4 linked regions of the Homo sapiens genome follow. The protein of the gene in region 1 interacts with the protein of each later gene in a pairwise test. Each region holds a gene or a part of one and is shown on either strand. Other genes may lie near its edges.

The links. The genes of interacting proteins can lie anywhere in the genome.
Region 2: the proteins of SYCE1 (region 1) and STX19 interact in binary tests that used the Homo sapiens proteins (3 or more experiments, as listed by UniProt).
Region 3: the proteins of SYCE1 (region 1) and TPM3 interact in binary tests that used the Homo sapiens proteins (3 or more experiments, as listed by UniProt).
Region 4: the proteins of SYCE1 (region 1) and CFAP100 interact in binary tests that used the Homo sapiens proteins (3 or more experiments, as listed by UniProt).

What each region holds. Positions count from the first base shown.
Region 1 is NC_000010.11:133,555,584-133,559,083, forward strand, and holds part of SYCE1 (synaptonemal complex central element protein 1), read right to left. Parts: intron 3,369-3,500; coding exon 3,294-3,368; intron 2,632-3,293; coding exon 2,584-2,631; intron 2,336-2,583; coding exon 2,281-2,335; intron 1,574-2,280; coding exon 1,484-1,573; intron 1,240-1,483; coding exon 1,176-1,239; intron 465-1,175; coding exon 398-464; intron 321-397; coding exon 197-320; intron 125-196; coding exon 14-124; intron 1-13. UniProt on the Homo sapiens protein: Major component of the transverse central element of synaptonemal complexes (SCS), formed between homologous chromosomes during meiotic prophase. Requires SYCP1 in order to be incorporated into the central element.
Region 2 is NC_000003.12:94,025,798-94,029,828, reverse strand, and holds the start of STX19 (syntaxin-19), read left to right. Parts: upstream 1-1,231; 5' UTR 1,232-1,462; intron 1,463-4,031. UniProt on the Homo sapiens protein: Plays a role in endosomal trafficking of the epidermal growth factor receptor (EGFR).
Region 3 is NC_000001.11:154,168,101-154,171,600, reverse strand, and holds part of TPM3 (tropomyosin alpha-3 chain), read left to right. Parts: intron 1-112; coding exon 113-188; intron 189-889; coding exon 890-952; intron 953-1,131; coding exon 1,132-1,201; intron 1,202-2,217; coding exon 2,218-2,296; intron 2,297-3,500. UniProt on the Homo sapiens protein: Binds to actin filaments in muscle and non-muscle cells. Plays a central role, in association with the troponin complex, in the calcium dependent regulation of vertebrate striated muscle contraction.
Region 4 is NC_000003.12:126,401,409-126,404,908, forward strand, and holds part of CFAP100 (cilia- and flagella-associated protein 100), read left to right. Parts: intron 1-3,500. UniProt on the Homo sapiens protein: May play a role in ciliary/flagellar motility by regulating the assembly and the activity of axonemal inner dynein arm.

The DNA.
Region 1 (3,500 bases):
CCTCCACACGCACCTCTGCCGCTTCTGCTGCTGTTGTTGGCACTTCTGCTGCAGCTGCTGGTGGCGCTGGGCAGCAGCTGCTAGGAGCTCCTCAGCCTTCCTGTGCTCTTCCTGAAACAGCTGCCTGGGGGGCCCAGTAGGGGGTGGTCAGCACCGGCCACTCCCTCCTCCCACCCTCTTCCCCTCCACATCTTACACTGTGGCTGCAGCCTCCTGGCTGCGGAGAAAGAGTCCCTCATCAAGGGTGGAGGGGCCCTCAGCCCCACACAGGGAGCACAGCTGATGCTTCACGTCTTCCAGTGTCGCCTTGACCAGCTTCTCTGCAGCACAAAGGGGCAGGTGAGCACATGAAGGCACGTGAGGTCAGATATGGGCCATCCACCTTCCCTGGTCTCACCTTCCTTGAGCAGCTGCTCCTTGCTGCTGTCCAGGGCACAAATCTCCTTTGCCAGCCGCTCTGGCATCTGAGGGGCAGAAAAGAGGCCTGTCCACTCCTCTTGGCTTTCCCCCATGCCTCAAAGAAGGCTATCTGGATCTTGTTTCATACTTACTCACTATGCCTCACTTCCAACAACTCTGCCCCTCTGTGCACACCAGCTACAGTACAGCCTCAGGGCCATGGCACTGGCCATTCCCTCCCTGTGCACTTCTGTCATCCCACATCTCTGCGGTACTGCAGTGGGGATGCTCATGGATTGTTATTTACAACAGATAAACCTGCAAGCACTGTGAGTCTTGGCTGTTTTCTGGAGGATCAGGTACCGGTTTAGCTCTGCAGCTCCTCCCCACTCCCCTCTGTCCTGGTGTGACCTCCTCACTGAGCCCTTCCTTCCTGACACTCACTGTCTATTTTCTTGTTCAGTGCCTAGGATCCTCCTGGGGGACAAACACGGGCTGCTTATCCTCGTTGTCTCCTTTGTGCCCGTGATGGTCCCAGACACATCCACGGACAGTGATGGAAGACTTGACCTTGGTCTCATCAGAGATCCCCCTGACCACTGAGCAGCAGGGTCACAAGGAGGTGACAAGGGACTGGATTCAGGCAATGTCGATCTTAGCACCACCAGGGCTTGCTTGGCGACTGGTTGTGGCAGGTGAGAGGAAGAAGTGACCGTTTGGGCCTGGTGCTGCTAGGGAAGATGTGGAAGGGGGAGGAGTGGCTTTGAGGGACTCACGTGGAAGTCCCAGAGGTCCTTGTGCTGGCCCATCAGATCTTCCAGCTGTTCCTCGAATGCCAACCTGGGAACCAACCACAGGCATGAGGGGATATGGGCTGAAATCACCACCTTCACAGCCTGTCCAAGTCTGTGGTTCTTCAGGCAGATTTTGGGGTGCTTTGCCCATGGTCTCTGCTCCACTGGGAACATCTTCACCACCTTGAATCTCCATGGCTCAGTGTAGCCAGCTTTTCTAACCCCCATCTTTGACATTATATCCCAACTACTGGCCATCCAAACCCCCTGCCTCAGATGCTAAGGTTTACCTCAGCTGTCTCTGTTTGTTCTTCTCTTCTTCAATCTGCAAGTTCAGGGCAGAAATTCTCTCCTTGCACTCCTGCAACATGGTGTGCTTCCTGGGAGAGGCGAGGCAGCCCTCAGCCATGTTCTCTTAAGCCCCAGGAGGGCACTGGGCTGGGGCTTCTGCCTCCCTCTATTGAGGCTATTTTTTCCCTCTACATTAAGGTCCTTCTCTGTAACATGTGGTAAGTAGGGAGTGACATGACCATTTGCCCCCTGGAAGTATTGTTGTCAGGTTAAGAGAGATTAATGTGGACATGGTTAAGTGAGCAAATGCACACACATCTTAGTATCATCTCGTTTTCCCAAAGAGCTGAAATCTCAGTGTGCCAGGGCCTGGGGCCTCTGGTAACAAATGAGCTAAATCAGGAGGTGGAGAAATGGATGGACAAATCGATGGGTGGATGAAAAGATAATGGATGAATGGAGAGAGAATGGACAAATGGTTGGCTCAATGCCTAAATGAACAGACAGATGAGTGAATAGACATCCAAGGAGTATGACAAAGAGTAAAAGGCAAAAAATAAAAACCAGCTGAAGAAATTTAATTGACAATTTAGCAAATGAATGTCTTGCCATTGAGAGAGTTTCCCTTAACACTACTGCCAGCTGTTGGAGCCGAAGGGGAAAGACATTCTTTGGACTCTCCATTGTTTAGAGGGAAACAATGAGAGCTGTGGGTCTCAGATTCATCTTCCTGCCTCTTTCTGCTCTACCAGAATAAAGAGGTAGTGCAGAGTTAGGCTCAGCTGGAAGCTCTTACCTGTGTGCCTCACTTTCCTTTTCCTGGCAATGCAGCCGGAGGATCCTCAGGGTCTCTGTAGGGAGAGCAACAGGGCCCTATGAGAACCTGTCAAGGTATTGGGTTTTGGCAGGGGGAACACAGCCAGATCATGTCAGGTCTGTGGACACCTGATTGAGCTTTAACATTTACTACATGTCTGGTGGAAGCCACAGGAGAGAGGCAAGCTGGGACAGGTTTCAAAAGGCTTCAGCTGCCATAGGGAGAGTGGGCTTCTGTGGGTTGGCAAAGGCACAAGCCTGGAGACAGGGGAGCGGCAAATACCTTGTTTTTTGCTCAAGATCTCCTTCAGGTGTACTTTCTCTCCATGCACTAGAAAACAGTGACACATTTTGGCATCAGGGACTATGCACTGCACCCTCAGGGATGGGGCTTGCTCACGGTCACATGGGAAGCTGGGCACAGCCTTGGCCCCAACCCAAATGTGAACCCTTGAGGTGAGCCCCTCCCTACCCTCTGGTGCCCACATTCCTTGTAAGCACCAAAGGGCCTTCACATTTACAGAGGGTGGCTGTGAGGGCCCTGGAGGATGCTCGTGCTTTTACATGGGGAGGAGAGAAAAAATACCAACACCCACGAAGTGGGATAAGGGCTATAAAGAAACACATCAAATAGGATGGGGCATGTGACCAGATGGAGGCAGGGTGCCATCTTTAAATGGGATGATTGGGGAATGCCAGTCATCCTGTCTGGGGACATTCTAACTTAGAGCTGATGATGTGAGGAAAGAGGAACCTGTATTATCTGAGGAAGCACAGACAGCGTCTGGCAAAAGCCCTGAGGTGGGAATGAGGTTGGAGGGTGTTTCCTGAACACTCCCACAAGCAGAGAGGAGAGGGGGAGATTGGCAGGACATGAGGCTAGAGAGGGTACAGGACCCTTGGCCATGGCAAGGATGCTGATTATCTGGAATACAGGGTTAGGGGAGGCTTAAGACACTGTGGGGACCTCTGGGTGACCCCCGGCTCTCTTACGCGAGTCCAGTTCCTTCTGCAGGGCCTCACAGATGGTCCGGGCCTCTCCTAGGTCTTTATTGGCTTTCTTTTTTGCTTCACCAAAGAGCAGAAAAACATTGTGTGAGTGCAGCCTCTATTCTCTTCCCAACAGTGACATTTCTCATTTGCCTTCAGGTAAATCTATAGTGGCCTAGATTTTATAGAGTAGGAAACGAGGCTTCCAGC
Region 2 (4,031 bases), on another chromosome or scaffold:
AATGCTCCCCTTTGAATGTTCCATCATTTATTCAGCCAGTTCTACGCTGAAGGACTTTTGTGTTTCCAGTGTTTTGTTTTTACAAAGAGTGCTATAAAAAGTAGGTGTGTAAAGGAGTCATTTCTTATTTTGAGTACAGATTCCAGGAAGTAGAACTGTTAAAACAAAGAATAAATATAAATGTGATTGGCCGGGCATGGTGGTTCACATCTGTAATCCCAGAACTTTGGGAGGCTGAGGCAGGTGGATCACCTGAGGTCAGGAGTTCGAGACCAGCCTGGCAAACATGGTGAAACCCCATTTCTACAAAAAAATTAGCTGGGCGTGGTGGCAGGCAACTGTAATCCCAGCTACTTATGGGGCTCAGGCAGCAGAATTGCTTGAACCCGGGAGACGGAGGTTGCAGTGAGCCAAGATCGTGCCACTGCACTCCAGCCTGGGCTACAAGAGCAAGACTCCTTCTCAAAAAAAAAAAAAAATAAAAAAAAAATAAATATATATATATATATATATATATATATATATATGATTTTGATAGATACAGCAATTTCCTTCTTCTTGCCCTCAAATAGTAACAAGTCAGGTAGAAAAAATGGGTCTGAAATTTGGTAGTACAAGAGAAATTTTCATTTTTAATTCTTCCTATAAACATTTCCCTCTGGTATAAATTAATTTTGAGTTGTTATATTGACAAAATAAATGATTTAACATATATTGCTGGATAACTTTAGTTCTATATAAAATTTATTTTAAAATAAAAACAGCAGGCATAATAAAAAGTAAAAAAAATTAAAAGTAACGTGGGATGAATGGTTTACAGACATGAGCTCTTTCCTGGATGTTCTCCTTCTGAAATTCTATGATTTTGTGAGCTAAGCTCTTTTGGGATTTCCTAAAATAGGACAGATTTCAACCATTTTAAAGTAAATGGAACAAAAAAAGCTTTTACACCAAGCTTCTTTTCATTCCTATTTAATTCCATATTTTTAGTAAGTTTTGATATCTATAGAAAAGAAAGTAACCTTTGTTTAAATACAAACCCATTTTCTTGGAATAATATATTACATATACAATGTAGGACTAAATTTGCAGATCCAGTGCCAAATACTCTACGTAGGCAGTTTAACGAGGACTTCCTGTTACCGACTAGCTCCAATGAAAATGATCTTCCTTTAATCTAAAGAATAGGCGTCTAACAGGCAGAACCAGATTCTCCAGGTGTGAAGTAAGCAATCTATTTTCACTTGCTATTAACAGCAAACGTACAACTTTATCTCTTATTTGACTTCATTATTTGGCTTTCAAATTAACAACATGAAAACTATACAGAAATTAGTCTGTGCCCTATAAGACAGAGATTTAGATAATTTGTTCAAAACATGAGATGATATTCAGATATTCTCTCAAAGGCAGGACTCCAACACCGCAGGTGGAAAACCAACAAAAGGAAGAAAACAGAAAGGTAAATAATGACTCTTTTCTGTACTTTTTAATATGAGGTATCCATAGACTGACATCTGGTTACACTGTTACATTTAAAAATCACTCAACAAATAATGAGGGTTACTTGTTTTGCTCAGATTTGGACCGGGGTACCAGTAGCTGATTTGTTCACATATATTACTGACATGCTGACTGGGATCTGGGTATAAAGCTCTTGAAAATAGACTACGATAATAAAAATCAACTTTAGAGGAAAGAAAAAATTTTTAAGTCTTTTAAAAAGTAAGCTCTCATTTAAAAAATACTAGAAAGTCAGATGTAAAAACAGATCTAAAATTATTTCTTTTATAGACAGACTATGAATGTGCTTACTTTAGAGAACATTTTTATATTTCACTCTGAAAAGCAGCTTATACCCAAATTTGACACATACGTATAACCTTAAAAATCTGAAATAATTTGCTATAATGGTCTTAATTGCTTCATTGTTGTTTACTAGAATCTTCTAAAATTGAAAAAATGAGAAAATAATCTTGTGAAAGGGCTACCAGAAAATATCGAAGTACTCACTAACCTTTATAATATTTCAACTAGTACATTAAAAATACTTGTTATACCATTTAACGTAAGTGTTAGCATTTAATTGATAGTTTGAAAAATTTAAATCAGCATCATTTAAATACAACATATGTAGATAGGTTAGATACTTTCAAAGTTATAATTGTTACTATGTTAGAATTTAATAAATATTCCATTTCAAATCAAAATAATAATGACTTTTATATGTATTTTAAAGGTGGACTTGAGAATTGGCCACGTAATACCTCGAACACATTATCTTCACAGCTATGCAGTTTTAAATGTAATATAAAAATCATTTTATGTATGTACAGCTTACTTGAATCAGATAAAAGTTCAAAAATTATACATCATATTTAAACAAAAATGATCTTAATGTTGTTATACAAGTTAATTCAATAAGTTATTTAGACTAAATAAAATGTAGAAAAAAGCATTGAAAGTTTACATTGCAAAAAAAGTCAGATACTTCAAAATTAGACAATATATGCAATTTGCAATTTTTTTTTAGTTTTTAGAAACTACTATTTGGCCCTCACTTTAGTAGCCAAAGAGGTTAATATATTACAATAAGATCCTCTGCTTTCACTTGCACTAGAAAAATGTGGCAAGTTGACTTCATATACAAAAGCAACAGAATATTCTGTTTTCTCTTGGGTAAAAACTGGTCATATTTCTTGAAATGTTTTATTTAATCATTACAGTAACTATGAAAAGAAATGGCCTACTTTAAAAAAATCTATAAATACACTAAGTATCTATCCCAGGGCATATTTCTAAAAGTACAAGGTAATTTTTACTCATGTTTCTGTTTCTAGGGATTTTCAGTGTCTGTAATAGGGCAGAGAACCTTTTATTTGAGTCGCACCAGTTTACTTTTCTATTTCCCAGAACAAGTTGTCCAAGTTGATTATCATACATACGAGTTAGTGTTCTTTCTTTTTTAAATATCATGTTTAAGCTCACAGATACAGTTCTTGCTAGTAAAATTCAAAACTGTATAGCAATGCTGCAAGTTAAACATAATAAAAGATGATTCATATTTGTATATAACTCTTCCAACATAATAAATTTAAGGTACATAACAGACTGCATAAAATAGTAATTTCATCAATTTCACCTAGTCTAAGCAATTAAATGATTTCACAACTATGAGCTTCATATTTTATGCTTATATGAATCCTGTCCTTGCATGTTTTAAATTCTAACATGCTTATTTGTCTCATTTTGCCTAACATTCTAATTCATGAAGATATAAGATCAATAAATTGGATAGTTATACATATAGTTATGAGTATGCAACTACTAGAAAATGTAATTTATATACAGCATATAAACATATTTGAGTACCTATCAAGTCAATTTCTACACAGATGAACAAGGATTTAGGGAAACATTCTCAATTATGTTAATTCTATAAAGATAAGCAACTGTGACTTTCAGTCAAAATGCACAGATACAGAAGTTACTCCCTCTTTCTCTAAACATACAGAATTTGATGTAATCGTAAGTTTAAAAAAGACAAATTTTAAAACAACATCACTAAATTTTAGAGTAAAAAAGCGAAGTTTTCTCCTGGCTCACACGGTGAAACCCCATCTCTACTAAAAATATAAAAAGTTAGTCGGGTGTGGTGGCGGGCGCCTGTAGTCCCAGCTACTCTGGAGGCTGAGGCAGGAGAATGGCGTGAACCCGGAAGGCGGAGCTTGCAGTGAGCCGAGATGGTGCCACTGCACTCCAGCCTGGGCGACAGAGAGAGACTCCGTCTCAAAAAAAAAAAAAAAAGAGAAGTTTTCAGGTGCCAGAAATGATGAGGAAACATACTTAAAGCCAAAGTGAAGAGTAGTAATTAAAGCTAATTACACTGGGCAAATACTTTACCTTAAAGCTGAGGTTTAGAGTTTGTTGCATTATAGGGAACTAAAACTGAGTTTCCTAGATGAAACAGTTAACTAGGAATAATACAACATAATCTGTATACAAAGACAGGAATAACTCTGTTGACTTGC
Region 3 (3,500 bases), on another chromosome or scaffold:
CCTTCCAACTCTCTCTACATATAGGTTCAATTCACGTCTATGTGTCTCTCTCCCTTTTTTTATTCTCTTCCTTTTCCCTTTTCCTCTCCTGTGGTATTTAAAATATTCACAGTAAGTGTTCTGAGCTGGAGGAGGAGCTGAAGAATGTCACCAACAACCTCAAGTCTCTTGAGGCTCAGGCGGAGAAGGTAGGGGCTGGTTTGTGAAAGTGACAGGCTTTGGGGCCTGGGCCCAGCCCTGCCCTTGATGAAAGACTGGAGACACGCATTCCATATATAATCCAGTGAGGCGTGTCCTCTTCCTACCTCCTTACCATGTATTCAGGTTCTGGGTTTAATGCTATTTTCTGTGCACTTTGATTGCTTTAATTAAAATAACTTCTTGGTCTCAGGTTACTGGAGTCATGTGCTCCTTAGGCTGATACTGCTGTGCTGAAAAGCAATAATCAAGGGCCCTAACAGGCTTTCTAGCAGACAGATGGGGGCAACAGACAGAATCAGCTCTGAGACCTAATGAGCAATCAAGACAGATGACTTCACTTTGCCATCATGTGGGTGTGTTTCAGTCATGTGACCTTGGGGTGCTACTACTCTTGCTCATCAAGCAGGGGAAAGGAAAAACACCTCCTTGGGTTGATCTGAATAATATCAAAGCTTAGATCCATCTTAAAAAGTCATGGAGAATTTTAACCTGAGGATCTCATGGCTCTAAAGACATAGATTTCTGAATTTCAAGGACCTATTGTCCAGAGCCAGGCCTTGCTCTTACTCTTGGACCATTCAGCACATTTAGTGCAAGAGGATATTCAATGTAAGTTAAATGTAGGGAGGGGGGTATTGCCTGTGTGACTAATTTCTACTCTGAAATTTTTAATCTACTTATCTTACAGTACTCTCAAAAAGAAGATAAATATGAGGAAGAAATCAAGATTCTTACTGATAAACTCAAGGAGGTGAGCTGAGGGGATTTATAGGGCAGAACCCAAAACATTTAGAGGTATATAAGGCATTAATATGGATTTAAACTGGCTGGTTTGGGTTCTGAAAGGTCCAGAAGTAGAAGGTGGAAGAAATAGAGATTGTTCTTCTTTGTCTTCATCTCTGGTTCTGACTAATTTCATATTTCCCCCAGGCAGAGACCCGTGCTGAGTTTGCTGAGAGATCGGTAGCCAAGCTGGAAAAGACAATTGATGACCTGGAAGGTATGGAACCTGGAGTAGGGATTGAAATAGAGAAATATAGAGGAAGACTGCCCATTAACCATTAATCTCTTTTTCTGTACACCAAAGGAAGTTGGTAGTGACTTGGCATGTATTAATATCATGTGCACTGTCCTATGCCACAGCTAGGCAAAGTGGGTCAAACTCTAGAATTGGTTTTTTAAATTTAATCTTTTCCTTTAAGAAGACTTTACCAAATAGTCTGCAATTTGTACCCTTCCCTTTTGAGGAGAATGATAATGGCTGCATTTACCTCCAATTTATTAGTCTTAAACCTTTAGTCTGTGGGTTTAAATGGAAGCCATGATTTCAGAAGGGCAAGATGTATGTCATTTCATGGCTACTTTCCACAGTTCTTTTTGCCACTCAAGTTGTCGGGTATTTATCCAATAAATGAAGTTGTGGAATAACCATATCTGAACATTGACCAATGTCAGGAGCTTTCTAAATACTTTCTGTCCCTGCAAGTTGGTAACTGCCATCCACCCTGACAAGGGAACGTACTCTTTGCTTTGAGAACTCTGATGTATGCTCCTTTGGTACACTCTCTTGGCAGAGTTGCAGGGGCAGCCTGTGGAGCAGAGGGGCCACTAATAGGTTCACATTTTGTAGGCAGAGAAGTGTCTGAATATGGATATATACTCTCTCCCTTTGCTATTTTTGTTCAATTAAGTGTTATCACTGCTAGGAATTGGGTACCTGGATGGGAGTGGTATCCTCTTGAGTGCTTTTGGTAATAGGAATTTCTAGTTATGACTGTGCCCAGGTTCTCAGCCCTTGCTGCAGTCGATTTGGAGTATCAAGAAAGGAAGTTGGTCATAGGAGAGAGTAGATCTGAAAATGTCCAGTCATGGTTGCCAGAGTAGATATTTTCCTAACTGTGGTATTAGACCCACAGTCACACTTTCCTAATTTCTAATGATTCCCTCTCTTCATCTGCTTCTGAAACTCTTCACTCTGTCCCCTCATTCCTCCCTGTGGTTCCTGTGCCTGTCCAGATGAGCTCTATGCCCAGAAACTGAAGTACAAGGCCATTAGCGAGGAGCTGGACCACGCCCTCAATGACATGACCTCTATGTAACTATCTGACAGTAGAGTGGGGCTGGGATCTTGGCTTGTGGGTGGATGGGGGTACAAGCTATGCATAGTGGTGTGCTTTGGTTTTATCCTTTGGAAACTAGAATCTCCACCCTTATCTTTGAAACATTGGTGCTGGTTATTTGTTTGGCAAAAGCTTTGGAGGCATGGCCGGGCGCGGTGGCTCACGCCTGTAATCCCAGCACTTTGGGAGGCCGAGGCAGGTGGATCACGTGAGGTCAGGAGTTGGAGACCAGCCTGGCCAACATGGTGAAACCCCGTCTCTACTAAAAATACAAAAAGTAGCCAGGCATGGTGGCAGTGCACCTGTAATCCTAGCTACTCAGGAGGCTGAGCCAGGAGAATCGCTTGAATCTGGGAGGCAGAGGTTACAGTGAGCCAAGATGTGCCACTGCATTTCAGCCTGGGCAACAGAGTGAGACCCCATCTCAAAAAAAAAAAAAAAGAAAAACATTAAAGGCTGGGCGTAGTGGCTCACACCTGTGATCCCAGCACTTTGGGAGGCTGAGGTGGGCGGATGACTCGAGGCCAGGAGTTCAAGACCAGCCTGGCCAACATGGCAAAACCCTGTCTCTACTAAAAAATATTTAAAAAATTAGTTGGGCTTGGTGGCGCATGTCTATAATCCCAACTACTCGGGAGGCTAAGGCAGGAGAATCACTTGAAACCAGGAGATGGAGGTTGCAGTGAGCCGAGATAATGCCACTGCACTCCAGTCTGGGTTGAAGAGCAAGACTGTCTAAGAAAAAAAAGCTCTGGAGGCAATTAATCTTGGATCAGAAGGAGAACCCTGACTGACTTGTAATTTTTATATTTTGTATTCATAGTTTCTTCATTATACTGTGATTTTTCTATTTGCTTCTCAAATTTAGTCTTCTCAGAAGGGATACTGCTAGAGGTAGAATCCATACAACTAAGGAAATAGGGCCCACAGAGCCAGTAACTTGGGCCCTGACACATTAAGACAAAATTCAGGCCTCCTGGGTGTGTTTAATTGGTTCCCTGATATTAAAGTTCAGGGAACTACCCAAGATGGGAAATACCAAATTCACCTAAGAATTGAGCTGAGTCCCAGAAGCAAGCCAAGTGATAAACAGCACCAAAAAGAGTTGTTGGGGCTTCATCTGTTTGCTGTGGATCCCTGATCCTTGATGCTAATCTGCCTCTTTGTATCTTTCCCACT
Region 4 (3,500 bases), on another chromosome or scaffold:
ATATATATATATATATATATATATATATATATATAGTATTATGTTACTGCAATCAAAAAATGTGTTCTTAAAATGTGTTAAATAAGTGAAGTAAACAACTAAATAGACAGGATGGTTCCCAGCAGTGCTGAAATAGGAGGCTGATTCAGTGATTGTGGTGGGAAGCATTTAGACAGGGGGATCAGGAAGGCTTCCTGGAGAAGGTGACATTTGAGTAGAGATGGTGAATAATGGGGATGGGCAGCCCAGAGAGAGTGTCTCGGGAGAGGGAGCAGCAGGTGGGAGGGGGAGGAGATGGAGGGAGGTGTGGGTGTGCCCAGCTGCAGGGGAGGACACTGACCTGTGAGTGGGAAGGAGACGTGGCCCAATTCCGTGGGGAACATCCCTGCCAAACCCTGGTCCTTCTGTGGCTCCCAAGGGCCTCATCCCTGTGCTCCCCAGGCTCACACCCTGCCAGCCATGCTGGCCCCAGTGGCTCCTCTTCAGCTCTGCCTGCAGGTTTTGCCTCCATGACCCCACGCTGTCACCACACTCCCCTTGGGGCTCTGCTCCCATGGTGCCTCCTCCGTGGGCTCCCTGATTGCCCCAGCTACTGGAATATCTCTCACTTCTCTTTATTTTATGTGCTTGTTGCCGGTCCAGAATGTGGACTCCAGGAAGGTAGGCATGGCACCTCCTTCAGGGCGGCATCCCCAGCCACACCTGACCCTGAGAAAGCGCCCACAGCTGTGGCCAGGCAGATGCCACTCTGAGGAGGCCTGGCCACTGTCTGGCACCATCACTAACCCAGTCCTGGGGGTGGTGAGGGATGGGACAAACATGGCTCCTGCTGGTTTAAAACACAGGTTTTATTATTGCTGTGTGGTGAGGCCAACAGAGCAGGAGATGACTGTCACTGGAGAGATGGCTGCTTACTCACAGATCCCTAGGACAGAAGGGGGTGCACCACGCAGGGCTGTGCGGGGGAAGCTGCAGGGTCAGCCAGAAAGCCCGAGGGAAAGGGGGACGTGGGCAGGAGCCTCCACTGTGGAATCACAGGAAGGAACGGTGAGGTGAGTGAGCAGGTGTAGGACTGATTTGTTAGAATAGTTTCGGGGTTCTGGGGCACAGGGCTGCCCCTGGTTGTCTGGTCCTGGCTCTGGGGGGATAGGGCAGGGATCAGTGGTCCTGAGAGTGACAGACTGACAGAGGCTGTGGCTGGGGTGTGGGCTCTGGATTGGGTGGTTTGCATTTGAAAGGTGTGCTCTGGGCAAGTCATTTTCTATCTCCAGGGATTAGCTAATCCGAGGGGGAGGGGAGGGAAGGGAAGGTCCTCTAGGCTCAGGAAGGCCCCAGAGGTCAAAGCATCTAAATGAGAAGACTTGGTTAATATGCCTGCCTTCCAGGAGTTTACTGCCTGGGGGTCGGTGGTGGGGGGTGCAGTCCAGACTTGCTGTGGGGAGTCCAGGTGGGGGCAATCACAGAGAACCAGCAAATAGGATGATGGTGAGGGTGCAGGTGGCAGGGGCGGATGGGTCCAGTGCTCCTCAGGAGACAGAGTCTGTGGGATCTGGTGACTAGGTGTGGAATGAGGGAGAAGAGGGTGTCGGGGATGCCTTGTCTCCTCAGTGACACCTGTGCATCACAGTGCTGTTTGCTGAGATGGCCAAGGCCAGGGGTGGAGCAGGTTTCGCAGGAGGGGGAAGGCCAGGAGCTCAGTTGGCGATGTGTAGGTGTCAGTGTCCTGTGGGAAACTCCCAGCCGAGACTCTGAAGAGGCTGCTGTGGATGGAGGCCCAGAGGTCAGGAGAGTAGGCGGAAACGTGAGGGCATCAGCAAATCCGCTGGGGCTGGAACTGAAGCCATGGGCACTGGTGAGGCGTCTAGGAGGAAAGGAGAGAGAATGGCCCGGGACACAGCCCAAAAGACTCCGATGGATAGAGGATGTTTGGAACTCATGTCACATGAGTGGAGTGCCCAGTCGAGTGTATTTTATCTTTTTTTTTTTTTTTTTTTGAGACAGGGTCTCACTCTATCACACAGGCTGGAATGCAGTGGTGCAATCTCGGCTCACTGCAATCTCCACCTCCCAGGTTCAAATTATCTTCCTGCCTCAGCCTCCAGAGTAGCTGGGATTACAGGTGCACCATCATGCCTGGCTAATTATTGTATTTTTAGTACAGACAGGGTTTCACCATATTGGCCAGGCTGTAGTTGGACTCCTGGCCTCAAGTGATCCACCTTCCTCGGCCTCCCAAAGTGCTGGGATTACAGGCGTAAACCACCGCACCTGGCCTATTGTATCCTTTTTTATGAGAATGTTTCACACCCAGTTCATTCTTTTCCTATCTCTCCTGAATTATTATAAAAGTAGACTTACACTTTAATAAAGACTTTTTAAGTTAAAAAATTAAATCATGTTAAAATACTAGAAGAAAACACCATTTTTTTTTCTAAAAAATATTTAAACTTCAGCGGCAGAATGCCTTTCTAAACAAGACACTAAACCCCAAAGCATTTCATTAAGCAAAAGTTAAATTTTCATACAAGGAAAATGAATGATAAAGTCAAATTGCCTGAAGGAGAATTATTTTCAGCAGCTCTGACAAATAAGCCAGTGTCCATCAATATAATAGATGAAGGTTCTCAAGAATCGTCTAGAAACTAGAACATTTCAGTAGAGAAATGGGCAAAGGATACTAATAGAATGAGGCAAGAAGATGGATAATTAACATCCAAAAAGACACACAGTTTCTTCCTAATTAAGAAATGCAGATGAAAACTGAGATGCCCTTTGTGACCTGTTAGAGTGACCGTTTCTGGTGTAGGGAAAGCAGTCCCACTAAAGTTGGTGATGGAAGAGTATCAAGCTAAAATAACCAAAAGAGTCAGAATCAGGTTTAGAGTTTCTCCAAGCACGAAGTTGAGGAGAAGTACAGGCCACCCAGTAATCAGAGATCCAGAGAATGAAAGTCCATGTTCCAAAGTGTAGAAGTTTGAGATTGTTTATCTAGACAAAGCTTTGGGAAGTTTAGCAGAATTTCAGCATCCTTCTATGGAAGGCTGCCTGCACATTACAAGGATCTGACTCGCTAAGGGGTCCTTTTCTCTCTGGACAAGTATATTTATCATTCCACACTGAAGATGCAACTGTCATGGGGTCCTGGGTGCCATCTGCTCTGAATTAGGTATGGGACAATAAAGAGGCAGTTAATCGGTAACAAAGTCTAGTGATTGGAAGTGGGAGTTCTGGTGTCCAGTCTCTCCCGGTCATTCACAGAGCAGGGAAAATGAGGTTTTTTTTCTGAGATGGAGTCTCGCTCTGTCGCCCAGGCTGGAGTGCAGTGACACAATCTTGGCTCACTGCAACCTCCACCTCCTGGGTTCAAGCGATTCTCCTGCCTCAGCCTCCCAATGAGCTGGGACTACAGGTGCACACCACCACGCCTGGTTAATATTTGTATTTTTAGTAGAGACGTGGTTTCACCATGTTGGCCAGGATGGTCTCGATCTCCTGACCTC